Linked DNA regions of Homo sapiens. The protein of the gene in region 1 purifies or fractionates together with the protein of each later gene. This does not show direct contact. Each region holds a gene or a part of one and is shown in the gene's direction. Other genes may lie near its edges. The genes, in order: KCND2, KCTD2, KCTD5 and BAG1.

What was found.
Region 2: the proteins of KCND2 (region 1) and KCTD2 purify together in Homo sapiens (affinity purification with mass spectrometry; 2 studies listed by BioGRID and IntAct, with this or other methods). This does not show direct contact.
Region 3: the proteins of KCND2 (region 1) and KCTD5 purify together in Homo sapiens (affinity purification with mass spectrometry; 2 studies listed by BioGRID and IntAct, with this or other methods). This does not show direct contact.
Region 4: the proteins of KCND2 (region 1) and BAG1 purify together in Homo sapiens (affinity purification with mass spectrometry; 2 studies listed by BioGRID and IntAct, with this or other methods). This does not show direct contact.

The regions. Positions count from the first base shown.
Region 1 is NC_000007.14:120,276,145-120,283,182, forward strand, and holds part of KCND2 (A-type voltage-gated potassium channel KCND2), read left to right. Parts: intron 1-7,038. UniProt on the Homo sapiens protein: Voltage-gated potassium channel that mediates transmembrane potassium transport in excitable membranes, primarily in the brain. Mediates the major part of the dendritic A-type current I(SA) in brain neurons.
Region 2 is NC_000017.11:75,057,224-75,064,261, forward strand, and holds part of KCTD2 (BTB/POZ domain-containing protein KCTD2), read left to right. Parts: intron 1-2,286; coding exon 2,287-2,382; intron 2,383-4,896; coding exon 4,897-5,022; intron 5,023-5,794; coding exon 5,795-5,824; 3' UTR 5,825-7,038.
Region 3 is NC_000016.10:2,699,507-2,706,544, forward strand, and holds part of KCTD5 (BTB/POZ domain-containing protein KCTD5), read left to right. Parts: intron 1-314; coding exon 315-410; intron 411-2,846; coding exon 2,847-2,972; intron 2,973-7,038. UniProt on the Homo sapiens protein: Its interaction with CUL3 suggests that it may act as a substrate adapter in some E3 ligase complex. Does not affect the function of Kv channel Kv2.1/KCNB1, Kv1.2/KCNA2, Kv4.2/KCND2 and Kv3.4/KCNC4.
Region 4 is NC_000009.12:33,251,955-33,254,730, reverse strand, and holds the end of BAG1 (BAG family molecular chaperone regulator 1), read left to right. Parts: 3' UTR 1-2,260; downstream 2,261-2,776. UniProt on the Homo sapiens protein: Co-chaperone for HSP70 and HSC70 chaperone proteins. Acts as a nucleotide-exchange factor (NEF) promoting the release of ADP from the HSP70 and HSC70 proteins thereby triggering client/substrate protein release.

The DNA.
Region 1 (7,038 bases):
AGTTTCCAGGTATACTTGAACTATTATTTTCATATGAATAGATACTTATGGTGTACATTTTTCCTCTAAGAACCATAATTCCTATTTTACATCGTAATACATAGATTGTAGATGTAATTATCAAAGTATTTTATAATATATATGCACATATTCATATGTATGCACTTTAATTATGGTTGATAGGTTATTCAGTCTTTTAGAATATCAGAGCTGAAACTGATCAACTCTACAATATGCAGTGGAATTAAATTTGCAACATATTTCAAGCTCTAGGTTCATAGTTTCAAAAAAAGAAGCAAAAGACTGTCATCCACACATTTTTTTTTAGAATCTACAGATCCCATCAGGCAATGGGTCCACACCCATTAAATACACATAGAAGATAGAGCAGTATCTGGTAAGATTGATGGTCACCAAGGCTGGCTGTATTATAAAATTTGGGGTCCTAATTTCCTTTTAGAATTTTTTTGTGAATTCTTTTTTGGGGGTATAATGAAGTTCTGCAACCAAAGGGACAAATTTCTGAATTCATGCTGTTGTTTTTAATATACTTTTAGGGCTAGAATTAAGTTTTTTTAGGTAGTAGAGAAAAGGAAAGGAGGCAAATGATTAATAATGTTAAACTGCAGAAAAGTAGCAGCATTTTACATATTAGAGAATCTAATAAAATAAAATGGTTAGATCTTTTTACTTTTATGAGTTCTTAGATAAGCTGGGGAGTGATGTGAGTGCCTTTTCTTCAGCTTTGTGCTACTATTCTTGCATAGGTAATCAGTTTAGTGAGGATTTGGTAATGGCTATAAGAAAAAAGTTATTCCCAAGGCTACTCTTTAAGCTTTGTGTTTTTGGATAATTTAATTGGCTTCTTTAAATGACATTGTGGTTAAAGTCAACTTAATTTTATTAGACATATTGTGTTGTACAGAATTTCTCATGTCATGTGGCCAGCTAATGGAATAGTTTATATATGAAGAATTTTAGGCTAGGTTAAACAAGAAATTGGGGTAAAGAAAAATACAATGATTTATGATTTTTATTTAGTCTCATTTTTTTAAAGACCTACTGGTACATTTAAAAAATGAATTAGTGAAAATCCATGTTCTACTTCTTATATTTCCTTTTTATCTTGTTGGCAAATTTGTGACAGTTTATAAGGATAAGGATGATGCAGAATGCCTTCGCAGTGTAGGTGCTGATTCTTTATCAAAGAGGTTTGTTTTTGTTGTCTTGTCATTTTGTAGCAGGAGATCCTTATTAAGGACAAATGGGTAGTGCAAATCACCATCATGACGTCAAATTAGAAGTACACTTGAATAAAAAAGATTCTGTTTTAATAGGAAGGGAGAACTATTAAAATGAAATACACTTTAAAAATTTGGTATATATGGCTGTGTTTCTTGAGGTATCAGTGAATCATTTTAATGCTATATAGTGTCTATATGATTGAATATAGGTATAAAAAGAATGTTGATGAGAATTCTAATTTCATATAGCTAATAGTTCTATACTAGACTTGAGAAGTTAGCATTATTTTAAAACTTGTTTCTGGAAATGACTTTCCAATTTTTATTTTATTTTGAAGCTTATTTTTGTTTCAAGGAAAATATGAGACAACATTAAACATTAGTGACAATTTTTTATTATGTAAATAAAATACTTAAAAGCACCCATTTTTGAAAATATTTAAGAAATTGAATTATATTGCCTGAGTAAAATCTATGCAGTGGATTTAGTTCACATGTTTCATAGGTAAGTAAGTGGATTAGAAGCATTGAATACACACGCTTTCTCAGAACTTGGAAGCTAAGTGGAAGTTACTTTAAAGACTTAGCTTCACTGAATTTGAACATTTTAATTTTCAGGAAATTAAGCTAATTAATGATCCTGATGGAATAGAGCAGTCATACTTTTAAGATGTGGAAATGTCGATGTAATCAAAATGAGAACATATATGGACACTTGACAAATCATATGCTTTATAATATAACAGAATTTCATAGAAAAATGTCTTTAATTTCTCATCAAAATGTATTATGTATTGTACCCTGAAGAAACAGATTCTTATAAGCCCTGCCTTTTTGGTGCCATCTTTGTGACTCAGTTATTTAATAATACAAAATATTCAATAAAAGCCATTGCCTAACTTTATTGTTTAGGCTGTAGTTCTATACTTAGAGGATGAAGTGTAAGGTGCAAACTTTCTGGGAAATAATAGTTGAAGCCAATATCCAACTATGTCTGAATGATTATCAAGAGTTATCTGAGCTCTTTTTATGGGGCTATTAATTTTAATGGAGCTAAATGTTCTTCAATTAGTGATAATAGAAGTGAAAATGTGATTGTAAACAGTGGTTATTGAAAGTTCCATCTCGTATGAACGTTATCTACATGAGAATAAATAACCAAGAGCTTTGTCATTCAGGACTGGCAGAATCATTTGCAGCTTCTAGAGTATTTTAGACAATATTCAGTTGGTTTTATGATCTAAAGAACTGAGTGTGTCTATCTTAGAACCAAGGTGTATTTGTATCACCATTTTATTTGCTCCTTGAAATATCAAATATATCAGTAGACTATAACTTGACTATGCTTACTGTATAAGTCATTACTTAATCTATCAGAAAAATGAACGCTTTAAAAATAGTTTTCAGGCTACTTAATTTCCTACTAAAGTAGGAAACATAGAAAGCACAGTTTAAAAAAAATGAAAAAATAATGTCAGAATTTTTTTTAAGTGTTTAGATTGAGTAATCAGGTAGCTCTGTTCCTCCATTTCATCCCTTCTTTCTGAGCGCATTTCACAGGTCCCTGAATCACCCTTTTATCCACCCGGCTCCCCTTTCCATAATGTAAACTCTAGTTACTGCCATTAACTGCCTTATTAGAAAAAGAACCTGGAACTCCTCTTTTGTCCTAAAGTCCTTTGGAAAATAACATCCAGTTGTTATTTTTCATTTAGATTGTAGTACTCAAATCTTGCTAAACTTAGGAAATTTCCAAGTGTTCACCAATAATCAAAAACTATTTTGTAAAAATGTACTAGACAGTGTCAAGCTTCAGTTTACTATTGCACCTCATACACATGATCTGGAAATTAGAAGTGGTACCAGGTGGCACATTAAATAATTGAAGGGTTATTATTATGTTAAGTAATATAAATATTTGCATTCTTGGTCTTATTACCATTTAGACAATTTCTTTAAAAGAAGGGATCATATTACTCATAATATAAAACTTAAGAATTTCAGGAGTGTTATTTTTGTGGTTCATCTCACTTTAATTTTAAAACAAAATTGTTTTCATCAAAGTGTTCAATATGGGAAAGTTGCTACATGGCATTTCTGTAAAGTTTATGTTTAGAGATAAATTTTATTATTTTAACGATATAAATTATATGCTGATTTCAGAACAAATTTGGGAAAGTAAAAATTTAATTTGTATTATATATTTATCTAAAACAAATACGGTGGCGTTACATCTTTGCTGCCAGAAAACTTAGCATAATTGCCATATTTCAATTTTTGTGCGTTTGGTGAATTACTATTTTAAGGAACAACAAAAAAGCAGAAAAGTTTTCACTTAAATTTTCATAGCGATGTATCAGGGAAATTCCTTTTTTAGAATGGCATACTTTGAAATAATTTATCATATGCATATATATGATCATATCTATGATATACGATAACATTATGTTATAATTATATATTATTAAAGAGAAGGATAAACTTTTAAATACTATTCTCCTGATACCTGTCAGTATTCTGATTATATAGCTTTGGGTAATGATGGGAGTATATCTTGCAGAATCATTTATGTAGAGACTTAAAGTTTACCCAGCTGTTACTGAAATGGGTGAAATTATCTTCCCTTGTGCCAACATCTATACATAACTATTGCTAGTGCATTAATATAAAACTCTTTAAAAGGTAGGAAGTACCAAAATTTATCTTTCTGGTGAAGTGCCATAATATGAGTAACATCTATTTTTATTTTGACATACTATGACATATTTGTGTAAAGTTCTTTATAGAAAATGTTAGTTGATGGAAGTTGAAAATGAACTTTTAAAGAAATGTAGAGAAATGTGGTATGTATTCCTCTTTTAGCCTTACAAGTAACCAAATCTTATGTGTCTTCATTTTGTTTTAGCCATCACTTGAATTAGAGACAATATTTGATGTGGAATTTAAAAATATGTATGTTAATCCAGCCTGTAGTACTTCAGCATTTACTTGGTTGCCAGACAGAGGTATTTCAGAAAAGGTTTAATATGTGTTATTTCAACATAGTACCCTAGAGAAAACGCTATTTTTAAATTTTCAGTGGGTCTGTTATGCTATTCTTTTTTATTTTTAATTTTCCTTTAGACTACTGATAAACTGTCTTATTTTATTTTTATATTTACATCATTTACTTCTGAACATTCCTCTCAATTATACTCATCTTTGAAAATGAGTCACAAAGTTCAAATTTCTTATTACCTGATCTCTACATTCCTAGTGGAAGAAAAGTGACCCATCATTTATTTAAAATTAATAATTTTGTTCATTTAAGAATTGTGTGGCTTGTCCATAGTTACATAATTGGATAGCAGCAATATTTTTTGAAATTTCACTTTTATGCTCATTTTCTTCTGAAGACCCTAAAACATTATCTAGAAATGTGTTATAATAATTATCGGGACTGCTGCTGATTATACAGGGATAAGAGAAGGAATACATTTGCTATTTATTCTATTAATGTAGTGCATTTCTCCCTTAGTTCTATTGATGTGACTCATTCCACATTCCTCAATATCACTGCTGGCTCTGCATTTATTCAAACAGCACTGGGGTTTATCATAATGGTGCCCATCTGATATAATACAACCTTGTATTCTCATCCAGTGAACTTTCAGGCCGTTTGGCGGCAAACTACTCAATGGTGAATCTTTTACCTGGCCTGATGGAAAAGAATTCAGTTATTTTGCCCTAATTTCCTGAAAGAGTTGGCCTATGAGTCATTAAAAATATGCAATTTAACTTCTCTTTCATTGAAAGAACACAAATGGTGAAATAAACATTCACTGAAAAGGAAGTATATTTTTTCCTTTAAAGTTGTGATAATGAATTCATTCCCTTTCCTCCCTTCTACTCTCCATATGTCTTATATTGTTTTCTAAGCAGGGATACACACACACGTATGCATGTATGTATGTATTTATGTACATATGTATGTATAAGCATTGCTCTCCCACTAGCTTCTGCAGCTAGATTTGATGATGTGGGATAGCGTCTGATATTGAAAAAAAAAAAAAAACCCCAGGGTGAAACACCATTTTTGTGCATATTTGCACTGCTCTTTGAATGTTTTGCCCTTTAGTTTTCTCCTTTGAGAGGCAGCCTTTACGTTGACCTTCTCCATGAAGGCTTTTCAGCCCCCTAAGCAAGCCTACGTCATTTATAGTTGGAATTGTGCTTGATATTAGTAAGTGTCATTTTTATATATAATTTATGGTTTTACCTCTTGACATTCTAACTAAATTGAAAGGCTTTTGAGGTTTGAGTGTATACCTTCTGGGGAGTTATTACCTAGTTCGGTGCTCAAATGTAGGAAAATATCTATGTTAATGTGTTGCTGATCATGGTGTGAGATGGCACTTGTACGCCATGGAGAGCTCCTTAGCCATGGAGCTGTGCCATCTCAACATTAGCAATAATCTGCTACTCTTAAGCCAAATTATTTTGCTTTGTTCAATGTTAAAAGTATTTACATTTGTTATTTGAACATTTTGTCCTCTCATCTACTAAATGTACCCTTTTAATTTTTCTCTTTTTGACTGGGAAGGGCTGTGAGACCTCAACTTTTTCATCCATAACTAACTACTCTGCAAAGGCTAGAATTAATGGCTACCAGTTGCCATTTTCTTGAACAGTTTGATTTCTGGTGAAGTCCAGGTAAATTGCGGATGCCTTTGGGAAGCATATGGAGATGCTTCATGATATAGGTGAATCAACATAGAAATATACTACCTTCCCTTGAAAGCCCAGTTCCTTATGTAAATACGAGTAGCTTAAAAAGCCCATGGGTCAACAGATACTTTGATGATGCTTCATCACTAGAAAGGTGTTCTCTCTTACCAGTAACACAAGCTGGAACTCTTGTTTTTCATCCAGGTTTTCTCATTTATGCATAAAATAGAATTTTTTAAAATAGGGAAATATTGTCTGTAAATGACATAGGAGATAGATGCAATTTCTGTCAGGAAAAGCTCAATGTAATCACCATCAGGAAGAAGTTAACATTCTAAGAAATTAAAAGGCAGATTACAAAATGTAAAGATAAATGTAGGTATATATTCTAGCATAACGCAATCCATTTTGCCTTGGGAATTTTGACAAGTCTATTATGTAATGATCTAAATCATTAAAAGTGTGGGGGGAGTAGGGAATGAGTTCCTAGAGGTTAATAATGGGAAAAAATAACATTGAAAGAGTAGGATGACAGTTGAGATAATGTCAAATAGAATGGGAAGATTTTGTTCTAAAAGTAAAAGGTCTTGTCTTTTTTGCTTTTATGTGGACCTAATTCTTCCGTCTTCTTCATTTTCTTCACTTTTAACAATATCAGTAATAGTGCTCTTGGAAACCCAAAATAACACCAGTAACATACACTCTCAGGGAATCAGACTGTGGCTCACAGAGTTCAATTCAACATAATAGACCTTTGTTGATCACTTGCTACCTGTCATTGACCACAGCAGTAACCAAAAGGTCAACTTTCTCACCTTAGGAACTATTTAAAACTAAAATAGTGGAAGAGTCAGAAATAAAAATGTAAATATATGATATAATGCCACGTAGAGATGAGTGCTATGAACAAAATACATCTGGGTAACAAGCCTGCTATTTTGCATAGGGGACAAACAAGGCTTTTCCAAGGGGTTGGCATTTAAGCCAATGGCTGATTAAAGTGATGAAATGACTTTCTGACTATCTGGATGAAGAGAATTAGAGGAAGAGAGAAAAGGAGTACAAAGACTTCAAGGTGGGATGAAGT
Region 2 (7,038 bases), on another chromosome or scaffold:
GATTACAGGCGTGAGCAACCATACCCAGACTCCTATTTCTTAGAATAGTATTTTTTGTAGGTGATTGATCCTGGTGCATTTGAGAGCACAAGTGGTTTACTTTGGAAGGGAGAAAAAAGAGGCAGTATAATGGCATCTTAAATACCTGGGACTTTGACAGCTGTGGCCAACATCACAGATCTTTTGTGATACTCTGAATTTTGTACTTATACAATTGGTTTCCAAAATAAGTGGTTACAACCAATTAAAATCTTCAGAGGATTTGTACTATATGTAATATGGAAGGAAATCTTTGAAATCCTTAGTACTTTGGTTAATGATAGCTATACCTCTTTTTTTTTTTTTTTTTTCCTCGAGGCAGAGTCTTACTCTGTCGCCCAGGCTGGAGTGCAATGGCGCGATCTCAGCTCGCTGCAACTTCTGCCTCCGGGGTTCAAGCAGTTCTCCCGCCTCAGCCTCCCGAGTAGCTGGGATTACAGGCACGTGCCACCTCACCTGGCTAATTTTTTGTGTTTTTAGTAGAGATGGGGTTTCACCATGTTGGCCAGGCTGGTCTTGAACTCCCAACCTCAGATGATCCGCCCACCTCGGTCTCCCAAAGTGCTGGGATTATAGGCGTGAGTCACTGCACCCGGCGATCGTTATACCTCTTTTGGAAGAAAACATAGAAGAAAAAATACAGCATTGTCGGCCGGACACAGTGGCTCATGCCTGTAATCCCAGCACTTTGGGAGGCCTAGGTGGGTGGATCGCCTCAGGTCAAGACCAGCCTGGCCAACATGGCGAAATCCCGTCTCCACTAAAAATCCAAAAAAATTGGCTGGGCACAGTGGCTCATGCCTGTAATCCCAGCACTTTGGGGGCCCAAGGCGGGCGGATCACCTGAGGTCAGGAGTTTGAGACCAGCCTGGCCAACATGGTGAGACTTCGTCTCTACTAAAAATACAAAACTTAGCCAAGCGTGGTGGTGGGCGGCTGTAATCCCAGCTATTCAAGAGGCTGCTGAAGCAGGAGAATCGCTTGAACTCGGGAGGCGGAGATTGCAGTGAGCTGAGATGGTGCCATTGCACTCCAGCCTGGGCGACAGAGCGAGACTCTCTCAAAAAAAAAAAAGGAAAAAAAAATAAAAAATTAGCTGGGCGTAGTGGCACATGCCTGTAATCCCAGCTACTCGGGAGGCTGAGGCAGGAGAATCGCTTGAACCAGGGAGGTGGAGGTTGCAGTGAGCCAAGATCACCCCACTGCACTCCAGACTGGGCAACAGAGCGAGACTCCATCTCAAAAATAATAATAAGGCTGGGTGCGGTGGCTCATGCCTGTAATCCCAGCACTTTGGGAGACCAGGGCAGGTGGATCATGAGGTCAGGAGTTCAAGACCAAGCCTGGCCAACATGGTGAATCCCCTTCTCTACTAAAAATACAAAAATTAGCCAGGCTTAGCGGCAGGCGCCTGTAATCCCAGCTATTCGGGAGGCTGAGGCGGGAGAATCGCTTGAACCGGGGAGGCGGAGTTGCAGTGAGCTGAGATCGCGCCACTGTACTCCAGCCTGGGCGACAGAGTGAGACTGTGTCTTAAAAAATAATAATAAATAGGCCGGGCGCGGTGGCTCATGCCTGTAATCCCAGCACTTTGGGAGGCCGAGGCGGGTGGATCACGAGGTCAGGAGATCGAGACCATCCTGGCTAACACAGTGAAACCCCGTCTCTACTAAAAAATACAAAAAATTAGCCGGGCGTGGTGGCGGGTGCCTGTAGTCCCAGCTACTTGGGAGGCTGAGGCAGGAGAATGGCGTGAACCTGGGAGGCAGAGCCTGCAGTGAGCCAAGATTGCACCATTGCACTCCAGCCTGGGCGACAGAGCGAGACTCCGTCTCAAAAATAAATAAATAAAATTATAATAATAATAAATAATAATAATTTTACCTTATTTTTGACTTGGGGAAATGGATTAAATCTAAGTTTGTTGGCATAGTTGCTCAAGCATTCATCCCTCTGAAGTTCAGAATTATTTTACCTTTTTTATTCTTTCACTCTTTGGATATGTTTTTATTGAAAAGCCACAGTATGCTGGCTTGTGGTCACTTAAAAAGAAAAACATTTTTTAAAGAGAAGGGAAAAAAAGAAACGCCACAGTACTATTTGTAAAAGGGGATAGTGGGTGGCTGCCAAGAAAAGATTTCCAAGCAAACTCCTTTTCAGTGTTTATTCATTTGAAGAGCCTCCTTGGGGCAGCTGCAAACTGTGGTGTCCTTGGTGCTGTTCTCAGTCTGCGCCTGGTCATTGCAGGGCCCCGTGAAGCACGTGTACAGAGTCCTGCAGTGTCAGGAAGAAGAGCTCACGCAGATGGTGTCCACGATGTCCGACGGCTGGAAATTCGAACAGGTACATCTCTTAACAGAGCAGCAATCCCAGGCCCCGTTCAAGGGGTCTGCAGCTCTTCAAACAATCAGTGTGGATGGCCAATTAATAACCACGGGAGACGGCTACGGCCAGGTGGGATCCTATTCCAAAACATGGGCAAAGAGCCATTTGGTGGGCACTGCTGGCCTAGTGGTGCGTGAGGAGTTGGGGAAACAGAGGAGCATCATGTCTTAGCTTCACACGCAGACTTTCCAGGGGAGCCAACGAGCAGTTTAGGCTTGAAGTGCCTCAAAGCCTTTGGTTTTTGTTCCCTCACAGGGATCGTAGAATGAGTCCCTAAAGGAGACTGGGATTCGACAACAATCCTTCCATTTCTTTTCCCAGGGTCAGAACTTTTTGGTTCTGAATGTCTTATGTAATCCACCGTGAAGAGCTTGGTGAACAGCTGTGCTAGGAAGGATCAGGCGCCATGGGAAGTGTGGTGCGGCCGTTTCCCCTACTTCTCTCCGCCTCGTGCTTACGACTGAGCTATCAAAACAAAGCTATGACAGTTGGAGCTTCACTGTTCTCCTCCATTAGATGGCAGACTTGTTAAATTCTGTTGCCTTCAAAACATAGGAAGGCCAGAGCGAATAGAGTAAATACAATTTTTTTTTTTTTTGGAAAGTCAAATCCCTTTCTTCATTCCATCCCTTTTAGACATGGCATTTAAAACAGACATTGCTACATCACTAACTTCCCACAAGCTGTGGTGTCCACTGGAAAAATGTAGTCCTTGATATTTCTATTTCACATTCAAGTGATCCTCTGCCACTTATTAACTGGTTCACTTCAATTTCAAAAAGCCAAAAAAGTCCTCTAACATAAGCCTTCCAAGGTGATACTTTCAGAAACCAGGGTTGGAACTAACCAGACAACAGCGCGACAGCCAAGACCAGCTGCTCTTGATGCCCTTTTCACTTCTGTGTTGTCCTGGTTGAAGTTGGCAAAGAGCAGCTGGCCGGCGCCGGCCTCCCCGCTCTGGCTCGCCAGGTTCATGGCTGGGCGCGTGGCGAGTGGGCCCGGCCAGGGAGGGCGCGCGTGCGAGGGCGGGTCAGGCTGCACTCAGGGTCTCGGTCGCCGCCACTCGCCACCCTGGGATCAACCGCCTGAGTAAATATGATTTTATACGGATTATGCCTACTTATGTGTAGAGTTTTAACAGGTCAACAGCTGTCTCACCAGATGCTTACCTTCTAAAAGAAAACTCACACTTTGCATTAATGCTGTTATCTCACAGATCAAGTGCAAAGCTGTCTCTGCCTTCAGAGCCAGCGGTGATTATTTCTCACACTTAGCTTCCACCACGGAATCCACTCTGCCTGTGTCTGTCATCCTGGTTCTTACTGGGCATGGGTTGTAAAACGTCGCCAAGAGTTTAATGCCCTCCACTCCAGAAGTATTTTTCCTAATATGAGCTCTTAAGCAAAGGATTTTTTTAATGTATTCTTTGTGAAACTAAAATGAATAATTTCTTGTTAATTTCTCATCTTATTACTGTCCCGTGGGAAGACGGAGGGTGTTCCTATTGCCTCCCTTCTGGATGAGGAAGTTTGTTTCAGACAGGCGGAGGCGCCCCCAGCCCCATCCTACCACAGTCAGCCATGCCGCCCATGTGAGGCCTCGCCTGCTCACTGGGATGCCCTCACCCTCTGCCTGAGCTGCTCCCCTGCGTGTGTATTTCCTCTTTAGAATTAAATTCTGAATTCTATTATCCAAAAAGGTTAAAAGTACCAGCATGCTGGGCACGGTGGTTCACACCTGTAATCTCGGCACTTTGGGAGGCCACGGTGGGAGGATTGCTTGAGTCCTGGAGTTCGGAGACCAGCCTGGGCAACATAGCGAGACCCCCCTTCTCTATCAAAAATAAAAGAATTAGCCAGGCATGGTGGCTGTAGTCCCTGTAGTCCCAGCTACTCAGGAGGCTGACGTGGGAGGATCACTTGAGACCAGGAGGTGGAGGCTACAGTGAGCTGTGATTGCACCACTGCACTCCAGCTTGGGTGACAGAGCTAGACCCTGTCTGGAAATAAAAAGTACCAGCAGCATATGACTTCCAGTAGCTGATCAGTGATTGGCTCGGTGCTTTCCAGAGCCTCCTGTCCCCAGTCTAGGGCTTCTGCTGATAGAGGAGCCAGCTGTGTGTGTGACTGAGGCAAATGTCCATTTTGTTGGCAGATGCGTTCTGTCTTCCCTTGCTGTGCTCGACGGGGCGTGGGCATGTTAATCCTGCCGCTGACGGGGGGGGACTTCAGAGCTTGGGTGAGGGGACAGTGGAGCTCATACTCTTCCTCCTGGGGAGGCCTCACCAATGATGCCCTGATGAAGAACAGGCCCATTTCTCCCCGGGGGCTTTGGTAGTCACAGAGAACTCATATAAAGAGTTAAACCTTTGATAACTTAAAAGTTCAGTCGGAAGAGGGGTGATTTGTGTAGCACTTTCGAAAGTATGTTAAGATTGCCACATGAATGTTCACTGTATTCTTGGTTCATCAGCTCATCAGCATCGGATCTTCCTATAACTACGGCAATGAGGATCAGGCAGAATTCCTCTGTGTTGTCTCCAGAGAACTAAATAATTCTACCAATGGCATCGTCATAGAGCCGAGCGAAAAGGCGAAGGTAAGGAGCCCCTTCCCTGGGCAGTTGCCTCTGGCTTGCTTGTTCGCACCCCCTCCGTGGGCTTTTCCTGAACTCTTGCTCCTCACTTCTTCCCTGGCCTTCTAGAGCCAGCGTTGCATTTTCCCCTCGTTTTGTTATTTTTGACTGTTGTAATTTAATTGGGATTTACGGAGCACTGACAGGTGTTTTTAGTTAGAAAATATGAACCTAAAAAGGGTAGACTTTCTCCATCCTCTGCCAAATCAATGAAAAAGAAAAGCTGGTTGCCACTAATTACTACAGGGTAGGATTTCTGAACTCAGACTTGGAAGGTATTTTGATTTATTCTTTAAAACTGTGCTTTTTTCACTGCCTCAGGAGAAAAGGGTGTTTTCTTACCTTGGTGACCTTTACCTCCCTTAAGTTCCTGGAAAACTGTTTCTTTTCCCTCCACTGTGCACCCCCCTCACCCCCAACACACACACACACACACACACACACACACACACACACACACACAGCTTCTAAATCGTGGATACCAGGTAAGCTGGAACCACTTCCTTTCAGTTGGCAAAGCTTTGGTCCAACAGCATATAAGCTTTAGACCCAGCTGTGCCCAGCAAGAGAGTGTTTCGCACCAGAAGCACTGCGGGTGAGGCTGCGGCTGCACCCCTGCTTGCTTCCTGGGATGACAGGACCATCATGCCACTCATCGGGTCCAGTGGAAAGCATCCCCCGACATCTCTGTCTTTCCCTCAGCAGCCTCAGCCTCTCCCCCATCTCCAACTTTCAGATTCTTCAGGAGAGAGGATCGCGGATGTAAACTAAGACCCCGAAAACTCCAGACCTTCAGGAGAGCAGTCAGCAGAGCCCCTCTGTGAAGTGAAACCTCACTCCTGTCCAGTGACCGAGCCACTGCAAAGCACAGCTGATCCTGGCCCCCTGTGAAGAAGTGTTCTGGTCAAAACTAAAGGAACTCCCTCCCCACCTGCAGGACTCCGAAGACAGTGCGACTTCTGGCTGCAGAATACCTTTTCAGAAACCTGCTTTCATTTGCTTAGCCAGTATTAGAACAGATCTTTACAACAGCAGCTGGGCTGGGTTCCCAGTCGGAGCCTTTCGGGGATCTGGGGGATGAGGGCGGAAGGCCTAGCTCCTTGGAAATGGCCTGTACTTTAAGGACGCTGGAGCCAAGAGGATTGTTCCCGTGCCGTGCCATGGTTTCACCCTATGTGTGCCACAATGGACGTTAGCAGCTGCTTCGGAACACCGTCCCTCCTATGCACCCTCCAAGACGTGCAGCAGATGCAAAGGGTTCTAGCTGCAGTTTGTCGAATTGAGGTTTTAGGTAAAGCATAGAGTTGCCAGAGTACCCCGCATTCCCATGAATAGAGCCTCCAAGGAAAGGGAGGATGGGGTGTCCTTTGTTGTGGTTGGAGGTTGGTGATCATTGCTCTGGATTTGGGGCTCCCGGCTGCCACCACATGCAGCTTTGCCTCACCTTTCTCCAGCAGCCGGGACCCTCTGGAGAGCTTGTTTTCCCTCCAAGAAGAGGTTTGAGACAGGCGGCATCCTGCACTGAGTCAGACAAGTGGGAGCTGTAGGAACTGCACCTGCAGCCTCTTCTTACTCCCCATTGACCCTGTCTTCCTTCCCTGGCTTTTTCAACTGGACCAAAGATGAAGGCACTTATGGACCCTTTGATGGCTTGGAGTGGGGAAGGCTGTTTCTTTGAAAGTTGCCAAATGTGTTATGTTGTGTCTCAGAGAGAGTTATTTCTGTGACTCTCTTGGAAATGCCTTGACTGAATGTGCAATATTTGTGTCTCTTGGTTTCTAACCTTGGCGGACCTGCTCCCCTCTGTACTGTCCCCAGTGGTATGTATGTATGTGCTAGGCAGTCTGGGGACCCCCTGTGTCTCTGACCACCCCCCTGACCCCCGCCATTACTTTCTTTTCTGGAGTGCCATGCTGGCGAGGATCCGGATGCGGCAGCACCCTCTTTCGGGCTGCATCCACAGAGTTTGTGTCCACACTT
Region 3 (7,038 bases), on another chromosome or scaffold:
GCGGAGCAGACGTGGACGCTCTCGTGTCGTCATGTCGAGCCACAGGTGCTCTTGGGATTTCAGGAACATGACTCATTTTATTTTGGAACTTAGAAATAGAAATATTTTTGGAGGCGAACGAGGAAGCAGAAAACAGCAGCTGTTCGGGCCGCGTGTTTTGCTTTTGTGGATGTGCTCAGGATTGCTTTGGGCCTCGTGCCCTGTGCTGAGAACTGCAGAGTGGACCTCAGCCTCCCTGGGTCACCTGGGCTGGGGCCACAGGCAGCAGTGGGACATGGGTGGCCCGCCCTTACCTGTGCCCATTGTCCTTGCAGGTGCCTGTGAAGCATGTGTACCGTGTGCTGCAGTGCCAGGAGGAGGAGCTCACGCAGATGGTGTCCACCATGTCCGACGGCTGGAAGTTCGAGCAGGTGAGGGGCCCTGGCCAGCCTGGTGGCAGCCATGCTGCAGCTGAACTTGTGCTCACAATGGCTCAGGGCTCAGTGCTCCTGGAAATGCAGACTTTGCTGCTGGCGTCTTCCTGCAGTTCTGGGGGTGCTCACGGCAGCGACCTGTGCCCTGTTTCCACTGGAGGAGCCTTGGGAGTTCGGGTGGGGTGGGCAGAGGTGTCTCAGGCTCTGCCCCGCACCTTCCCCTCCTCCCTGGCCTGCCTCTTCTTCCCAGCGCTGCGCTTTCTTCGCATCATCTGGCACCTCTGTGTGAGGGAGGGGACTGGCGTCCCCAGAGCCTCCTGGCCAGCCCACTATCCAGCGCAATCCCCGTCCCCCACAGCTCACTCCATCGGAGCATATGGAGGCCCTGACGCCTTTCCCAGGCTGCCTCCCCTTCCCGCCCATGCTGGAAGGTGCTGCCAGGCCCTCGTTGCCTTCTCTCTGGTTTTGGCAAGCTGCGGCGGGTGGGGTCTGATGGGTCTGTGCAGGGCATGCCTTCTTCAGCAGCTTCCACGGAAGCCACCTGAGTGCTGCATGGGCCACTGTGCCATGGCATTGTGGCTTGTCATCGGGGACCTCAGGACACGTGAGGCATGGCCTCTGACCGGGGGGCCCTTGCCCACGACCTGGCTGCCACTGTTCCTGGTGCTAGACAGACACTGAGGGTGGGGACAGTGACCTCACCCAGCCCTCCCTGTCCTGAGTTTCCTCTGTCACTTGCTTCTGTCTGGGGCAGGTTCTGTCCATGGCCCAGTGCGCCTGCCAGGTTGTGGGAGTGACAGGCTCAGCCAGTGTCCCTCTGAATGAAAGCTACCTTTTCCTTGGAGTCTTTCAAAATAATAGATCACATTGTAGGGTACTTGGAGCCCCCCCCCCCTTAAAATGTCACTAAAAACATTTGTGTCCCACCGTCCACCCTGGACCCCTAGGCCGGGGGCCGGGGTGACTCTGGGTCTCTGTGCTGACAGGGCTGCTGACCAGCTGCTTGGTCCCTGCCCTGCACCTCATCAGAATCGTGCCAGAGCCTCCCACGGGAACAGAAATCTTTGCTGCTGGGCGAGCCCCACCTCCCAGTTGTCCCTTGGTGGGGCTGGGGCCCTGGGAAGCCGTGTCAGCAGCTCGGGGTCCGCGAACAGGGCTGTCCCCATGTGGCACCTGTGCTCTTCTGCCACCGTCTTGTGACTTCTGGCTGGGAGGGAACAATGTCTCCTGCCCGTGGTGGGCACCTGCCTCCCGGGGCAGCTTCAGGTCTTCGACCTTAGCACTTCTGGGTGGATTCCAAACCCATTGCAAAGAACGGGTGTCCTCCCCCTTCCTTGATTACGACCTGCTTGGCACGCTTCATCCCTTGGGGACCCCTTCTCCCAGTTCATGTAGGGAAGCCGCTGGGCTGACCAGCTGTCCCGGCTGTGGGGTGGGACCCTGCGGGGTGCTGGGAGGTGGCCAGACCGGACCCAGGGTCCCCAGTGGTCAGCAGGGGATTGCAAGCAGGGCTTGGAAGTGGCTGTGAGGACACAGGGGCTCCGGGGGGCATGGCCGTGAGTGCTCCCAGGGGTACCCTTAGCTGCTTGGGCCCATGCCGGCACCCCTGTGGCCGCCTCACTGGGCTGGGTCCACTGCTGCCCACTGGGTCAGCCGCCAGCTATACAGGAGCAGCAGGTAGCTGCGGGCTGCTCTCCCGGCCGTTGGTCCAACTGCGCAGGTCTTAGAGAGGCCAAAGTGTGAGCCTCGTCCAGCTGCTTTTTGGCTTGGTCATCTGCTGCTGTCATGCTTATTGTGATTTGCGTATTGCCTTTTAATTTTCCCTTTAAAAGCACAGAAGTGCCTGGTGGCCCAGGGTAGCCAGCCATGGGCCAGATGCCTGGCCAGAGAGACAGGTTGGCCCTGGACCTGCATTGGCCTGGCCTGCCTGGTGACCCGGAGGGAGGCAGGTTGGAGTGGCCTAAGGGTGTGGCCAGCAGGCTGCAGCAGACCCGCCCTGGCCGAACTCCTGGACAGCACAGCTCCTCCAGCGGCTTTCGGTCCAGTCAGCTGGTCCCAGGCTCTTCCCTCCAGGTTTTCAGAGCCGCCCTCCACTCTCCTCCCGCTGCCCCCCTCCCTCCGCCCCAGCTCAGGGACCCGTCTGTGCTCCGTCCCCCTGGGGCAGCAGCCCCTTTTGGCCCAGCTGGAAGCGCCAAGGAAAGCTCAGGGTCCTCACAGAGGAAGAGCTCGCCCCATGCCATGCCACGGCGTGGGGTGCCGCCCCGTGTGCTCGTGCAGGTGTTCCGGGGATTTGTTTTCCATCCATTTCCTGAAGCGTCGGCAGTCTTTGCTGTGGCTTTCGCGGTGGCAGGCGCGTCCTGAGGCTGGTCATGTCAGCCTGGCTGGGTCTCTCAGGCTTCACTGGGCTGCGTCTCAGGCTATGTCTCCTTGCAGTTGGTCAGCATCGGCTCCTCTTACAACTATGGGAACGAAGACCAAGCCGAGTTCCTCTGTGTGGTGTCCAAGGAGCTGCACAACACCCCGTACGGTACGGCCAGCGAGCCCAGCGAGAAGGCCAAGGTGAGTGCTGGGCCGGCCCTGGCCTGGGGCAGTCTTGGGTGGGGAAGGCTCTTGCCCTCTCAGACCTTCCTCCTTTTCTGCCATTCTCATCAAGCTCCCGGTGTCCGCCCCTGGTGGCCTTGCTGACTTCTTGGACACACGGTCTCCCGTGGGACAGGTTCTCTCGACACAGGCTCCCAGTAAGCCCCTGCGGCCTCCCAGCCTGCATGCAGAGCTGCTCCTGGAAGGGGCCCCAGGCCTGCTGCAGGGGCCATGCTCTTAGGAATGCCACTGAGGGCTGTGTCTCAGGGGACCCAGGGTCCTCTGTTCCCCGGGCCCAGCCTCTGCTGTGTGAGTGAGGACTTGGGATGCTGAGGCCTGGCTGTCATAGGGGTCTGGGCCATCCCTGAGTGCAGGGACATGGGGGTCCAGTTGTCGTGGTGGGGGTCTGGGCCATCCCTGAGTGCAGGGGTGGGTACCCTGGCTCAGCCACTACGTGGGCCTCATCTTTGTCGAGAGGAGGGTGTCCTGCAGGCCCTGGGATTCTCAGGCTGCACAGAGTAGGCCCTTTGCGGCACCCAGCCTGGCAGCACCGGCGCAGACTCTGCGGGGGCTCAGGCCCTTCTGTTTTCTGCGGGGCAGGCAGCTGGGGTGAAATGCAGGGACCCCTGCCTCGTTTGCTTTCAGGTTGGCCCTGTGGCCCTGCCCACAGGTGACCCATTCTGGTGGCATTTCCTCTAAGCACGTTCTTAAGGTTGAGGCTCCAAGATGGACAAATGCGTCCATCCAAGCAGAATCTGACCTTGGCCTGGGCCAGCTGCACCTGGCAGGACTCCCGGACCTCAGAGCCAGGTGGTGGCTGGAGAGCTCTTGGCTGGGGTCTGCGTGGGTCTGGGAGAGCCTGGGTGGTGGGGCGGGCTCTGTGGGGAGCCAGCCTGGGGCGAAGGCTCGGGGCATTGGCAAAGGGTGTTGAGTGGGTGCCATGAGAGGCCAGAACCGGAAGGCTTTTAACTGGTGGCATTAAACCAGGGACACCTGGGCAACCGCAGACTCTTGGCTGGGGGCCTCTGGCCGGCCACCAGCAGCCCAGGACTGTCCCCGTGAGCCTCTCCGAGTAGGCCTTTGGAGGTATGCCCTTGGGAACAGAGGGGTGGGGCCGCCAAGCATGTCTCTCGGAGGCCTGCGGCCAGCTCACGGCAGCCTTTCCACCTCAGGCGACTGTCCTGGCCCAGAGCCTCCCTCGCTGGCCACCCGTTGTGCTCTTGCTGTGGGCAGAGGCCAGTCCTGCTCCACTGCCGTTCCTCGAGGCCGAGGCAGTGTAGGCTGGGGCAGGCCCTGGTGTGGGACAGCCGGGGTGGAAGCTGGGGTTCCACCGCCAGGCTCGGAGATGCTCTTCCATTTGAGTCTCGGATCTAGGAGGCGACCCCTGGCTCCCTGAGAGCCCCAGCTCAGTCACAAGGAGGCACTTCTCTTCCTCTTGGAGCAATCGTAGGGCTCTTTTCTAAATGGTTTTATTTTTAGAAGTTTTTTATTTCTGAGCTGAGTTTTTATAACCAAGCTCCCCTGGGCTCCTATCCCTCAGGTGGCTTGGCAGCTGCAGAAAGGACACGCTCTGTACTGTGAGGAAGCTCCAGGCATGACCCCAAATCCCTTTGTGGTTGAGAATGTGGCCCTATTTCATTTTCCAAAAATACCTGCTCTGAAGTGGGGCAGCTATGGCGGCTTCTTGATGGGGGTGGTGTCAGCAGTGCCCCAGGAGGCAGAGCTCAGGCCAGAGCCTCAGGAGGCCGTGGGGGATTGCGGGGGCCAGAGCTGGAGGACCGTGATGGGGGCACCCCTGGCTGGGCTGCGCAGGGCCGCATGGGCTGTGGGCCCTCGTCGCTGGTGTCCCTGCAGCATGTGTGGCCTGGCCCTGCTGGGCAGCTGTCCCCCACTTCAGTCAGCGGCGGCGGGAGAGCCTGGGTGGTGGGGCGGGAGGGGTTGCACCTGTAGCAAGTGAAGGCGGTCCACACATGAGCACACCTGCTTCCCACGCCAGTCCCTCAAGAACTTGCTAGAAGGACTCGCAGAGCTCACTGAGAGCGCTTAGACTCAAGGCCGCCATTTATTCCCAAGGAACAGAGAGAGACAGGCTCAGATCAGCAAGGGCGGGCACCTGGGCAGAGGCCGGGGTCTCCCAGTGCCTGGGCGGCTGAGGAGGGGGTTCCTTGGTGGTGTTGGGGCTCCATTGCGTAGCCATGCTCGATGGGTGCATCCACCGCCTGCCCCCGTGGCTGATCCCTCCTGTGACCCAGGGCCCCACCCTCCCTCCTGCAGCAGTGGGGCCAATGCAGTGGGGTCCACAGAGCCCACGCAGCAGAGGCCCTCCTATCAGGCCGAGATCTGTGGGCTAGCGCCGCCTGCCAGGAGTGGGGCCAGAGGCCAGGCGCCTCTGGACAGGGTTCAGCCCCTCAGCACATGGTGGGACAGGACCAGCCCCGGATCGCAAGATGCAGCCGCCTCACACGTGGAGGTTTCCACCTCTGAGATGTGGCAGAGCCCCTGAGCCTGTGTGTCCCCTCGTGGCGTGGCCTCACTGGAAGGTCACCGGGCGTGGGGGTTTGGGCCCGGGGCACCCGCCCACCCGCACTGTCCTGACAGCCTGTCTTCTCCCCCACTGCGCGCTGCACGCCGCCAGAGTGACGACGAGGACCAGGGGCACCCAGGGAGTGGCTCAGATTAAGTGTGAATGTCATGGTGAGCTCCGTGGCCTCCTTGACCCCATGGCCCCAGCTGACCCTTGCCACAGACCCTCCCTGTGTGTCTGTCCCTGCCTGTAGTTGACGAGAGCCGTCCGCACTCCATGCCAGCTGTAGATCCTCAGTAGCACTGTCTTGGTGGTGGGGCTGTTGCTGTGAGGCAGATGCCCAGGGGCAGTGTTGGGGCGTTTGTTGGGATGACTGGAGGGTGCCCGTGCCAGGCCAGGCTGTGGACATCAGTGGTCGTGAACCCAAGAGCCCCTCCTGGGGGCTGGGCAGGGAGTGCCACTCGTGCCGCCAGCCCTAGTGGGTGACCTTCCTGTCTGGCTTAGGCCACAGGCTCAGGGCCAAGGGGTCAGGACCAGTGCGGCAGACAGCAGACCCCTATCTCAGCTGCCAAATCCTGCGGCATCCCTGATGCGCTTAAGCCTCCCAGGCCAGCCGTGTCCTGCAAGCCCCTCAGCCACCCGGGCCTGCCTGCCTGTGGGGGTGTCTGGCCATGGGGTACAGCCTCAAGGGCCCCCTGGTTGGTGTCTGCAGTTGGACCTTCCTGTGGAAGATGGCCTAGGGAGACAGTGTGTCCAGAAAAGATGGGTCTCACCCCAGGCTCTGTCTAGAGTAGCCCGTGCTGCTCCCGGCCTTGGGAGGGCGAAGGACAGCACTTTGGCTGCAGGTCTCCAGGGTGTCTCCTGCCCTCATCAGGAGGGAGCTGTTGGGGCTCCCGGATGCTCAGATGCCACACTGCTCCTGGCCTGTCCGCTGCGCTACTTAGTTTTACACAGGGCTGGTGGGGGCTTGGGGGCTGCACTGTCTCCCCAAGTCAACTCCAGACATCCCAGTAAACTTGGGAATCACCCTGGCCCAGGGAGGGACGTGCTGCCCCTCGCACAGGGGGATGGGCTCCTCCGAGGCACTGGAGAGTGAGTGGGAGCCTCGAGCTAGAAGTGGTCCAGGGCACTGAGCCTGGGGGGCACCCGCCTGGGAACGGCAGAGCTGTTGGGGGGTGGAGTATTGGAGTCAGGCTGAGCAGCTCAGGGGACGTGGCCTCCAGGAGCCTTCGGAACAAGCCTGGGGTGGCATGCACCTCTCACCACTGCCCTCTCTCCGGTCAGTGCGGCATGGCAGTGACCTCTGGGAGGCTGTGCCCGGCGAGGGCGTGGGCGTTGCTGCCCTACCTGGTGTTGGGCAGCCCTCACGTGACACATGGAGACAGCTGTTGTGGGCCACGCACAGTGAGGCTGGCTGGCTCCGAAGCTCTCTGCTCGGGAGCGTGGGGTGATTTCCCCTCCACCTGGTCTCTGGAGCTGCCATGGCTCATTTTGGGAGTTCACCTCAGCAGCATTGGCCAG
Region 4 (2,776 bases), on another chromosome or scaffold:
GACCACTTATCCCTCATTGTGACCTAATTCCAGAGCATCTGGCTGGGTTGTTGGGTTCTAGACTTTGTCCTCACCTCCCAGTGACCCTGACTAGCCACAGGCCATGAGATACCAGGGGGCCGTTCCTTGGATGGAGCCTGTGGTTGATGCAAGGCTTCCTTGTCCCCAAGCAAGTCTTCAGAAGGTTAGAACCCAGTGTTGACTGAGTCTGTGCTTGAAACCAGGCCAGAGCCATGGATTAGGAAGGGCAAAGAGAAGGCACCAGAATGAGTAAAGCAGGCAGGTGGTGAAGCCAACCATAAACTTCTCAGGAGTGACATGTGCTTCCTTCAAAGGCATTTTTGTTAACCATATCCTTCTGAGTTCTATGTTTCCTTCACAGCTGTTCTATCCATTTTGTGGACTGTCCCCCACCCCCACCCCATCATTGTTTTTAAAAAATTAAGGCCTGGCGCAGCAGCTCATGCCTATAATCCCAGCACTTTGGGAGGCTGAGGCGGGCGGATCACTTGAGGCCAGGAGTTTGAGACCAGCCCAGGCAACATAGCAAAACCCCATTCTGCTTTAAAAAAAAAAAAAAAAAAAATTAGCTTGGCGTAGTGGCATGTGCCTATAATCCCAGCTACTGGGGAGGCTGAGGCACAAGAATCATTTGAACCTGGGAGGTAGAGGTTGCTGTGAGCCGAGATTACGCCCCTGCACTCCAGCCTGGGTCACAGAGTGAGACTCCATCTCAGAAAAAAAAAAAATTGAGTCAGGTGCAGTAGCTCCTTCCTGTAGTCCCAGCTACTTGGGAGGCTGAGGCTAGAGGATCACTTGAGCCCAGGAGTTTGAGTCTAGTCTGGGCAACATAGCAAGACCCCATCTCTAAAATTTAAGTAAGTAAAAGTAGATAAATAAAAAGAAAAAAAAACTGTTTATGTGCTCATCATAAAGTAGAAGAGTGGTTTGCTTTTTTTTTTTTTTTTGGATTAATGAGGAAATCATTCTGTGGCTCTAGTCATAATTTATGCTTAATAACATTGATAGTAGCCCTTTGCGCTATAACTCTACCTAAAGACTCACATCATTTGGCAGAGAGAGAGTCGTTGAAGTCCCAGGAATTCAGGACTGGGCAGGTTAAGACCTCAGACAAGGTAGTAGAGGTAGACTTGTGGACAAGGCTCGGGTCCCAGCCCACCGCACCCCAACTTTAATCAGAGTGGTTCACTATTGATCTATTTTTGTGTGATAGCTGTGTGGCGTGGGCCACAACATTTAATGAGAAGTTACTGTGCACCAAACTGCCGAACACCATTCTAAACTATTCATATATATTAGTCATTTAATTCTTACATAACTTGAGAGGTAGACAGATATCCTTATTTTAGAGATGAGGAAACCAAGAGAACTTAGGTCATTAGCGCAAGGTTGTAGAGTAAGCGGCAAAGCCAAGACACAAAGCTGGGTGGTTTGGTTTCAGAGCCAGTGCTTTTCCCCTCTACTGTACTGCCTCTCAACCAACACAGGGTTGCACAGGCCCATTCTCTGATTTTTTTCCTCTTGTCCTCTGCCTCTCCCTCTAGCTCCCACTTCCTCTCTGCTCTAGTTCATTTTCTTTAGAGCAGCCCGAGTGATCATGAAGTGCAAATCTTGCCATGTCAGTCCCCTGCTTAGAACCCTCCAATGGCTCACTTTCTCTTTAGGCAAAAGTCTTTACCCCATGCCTTCTCCCATCTCATCTCAACCCCCTCATTTGTTGGCTGTCTGCTGTCAGCCACTCTTCTTTCAGGTCCTCAGATGCACTGCACCCTCTCCTGCCTGGGGGTCTTTGCTCCTGCTACTACCTCTGCTTGAACAGCTCCTCACCTTCCTTCCTCCAACCCTACCCTTGTATAGGTGACTTTTGTTCATCCTTCAGAATTCAACTCACATGTCTCTTGCATGGAGAACCCTCACCTACTGTGTTGAGACCCTGTCCAGCCCCCAGGTGGGATCCTCTCTCGACTTCCCATACATTTCTTTCACAGCATTTACATAGTCCATGATAGTTTACTTGTGGGATTATTTGGTTAATCTTTGCCTTTAACACCAGGGTTCCTTGGGTGAAGGAGCTTCTTTATCTTGGTAACAGCATTATTTCAAGCATAACTTGTAATATAGTTATATTACATATATAACATATATATATATAACATAACATATATAACATATATAACAAGCATAACTTGTTATATAGTCTTGTATATAGTAAGACCTCAATAAATATTTGGAGAACAAATGAATGTTGAATGCACACATCAATAGTGAAACTTCTATAGCTGCATTTGGCCTCAGAATCTCCGTCAGCATTGGAATTTACAGCCTTAACAGCCTTTATTGTCTTAAGGGTTGAGAAAAGAGGCCCTAATGCATGGACTGCTGGGCAGATGTGATAGGTGATTGCACAGGCCCCACCCACGCAGATCTGCTCACCCAAGGGGTTTCTGCCTGTGAAACTCTTCTCCCGTGAGAAGGGGAGAGAGCACCCCTTCTTCTCCCGTGAGAAGGGGAGAGAGCACCCCTTCTTCTCCCGTGAGAAGGGGAGAGAGCACCCCTTCTTCTCCCGTGAGAAGGGGAGAGAGCACCCCTTCTTCTCCCGTGAGAAGGGGAGAGAGCACCCCTTCTTCTCCCGTGAGAAGGGGAGAGAGCACCCCTTCTTCTCCCGTGAGAAGGGGAGAGAGCACCCCTTCTTCTCCCGTGAGAAGGGGAGAGAGCACCCCTTCTTCTCCCGTGAGAAGGGGAGAGAGCACCCCTT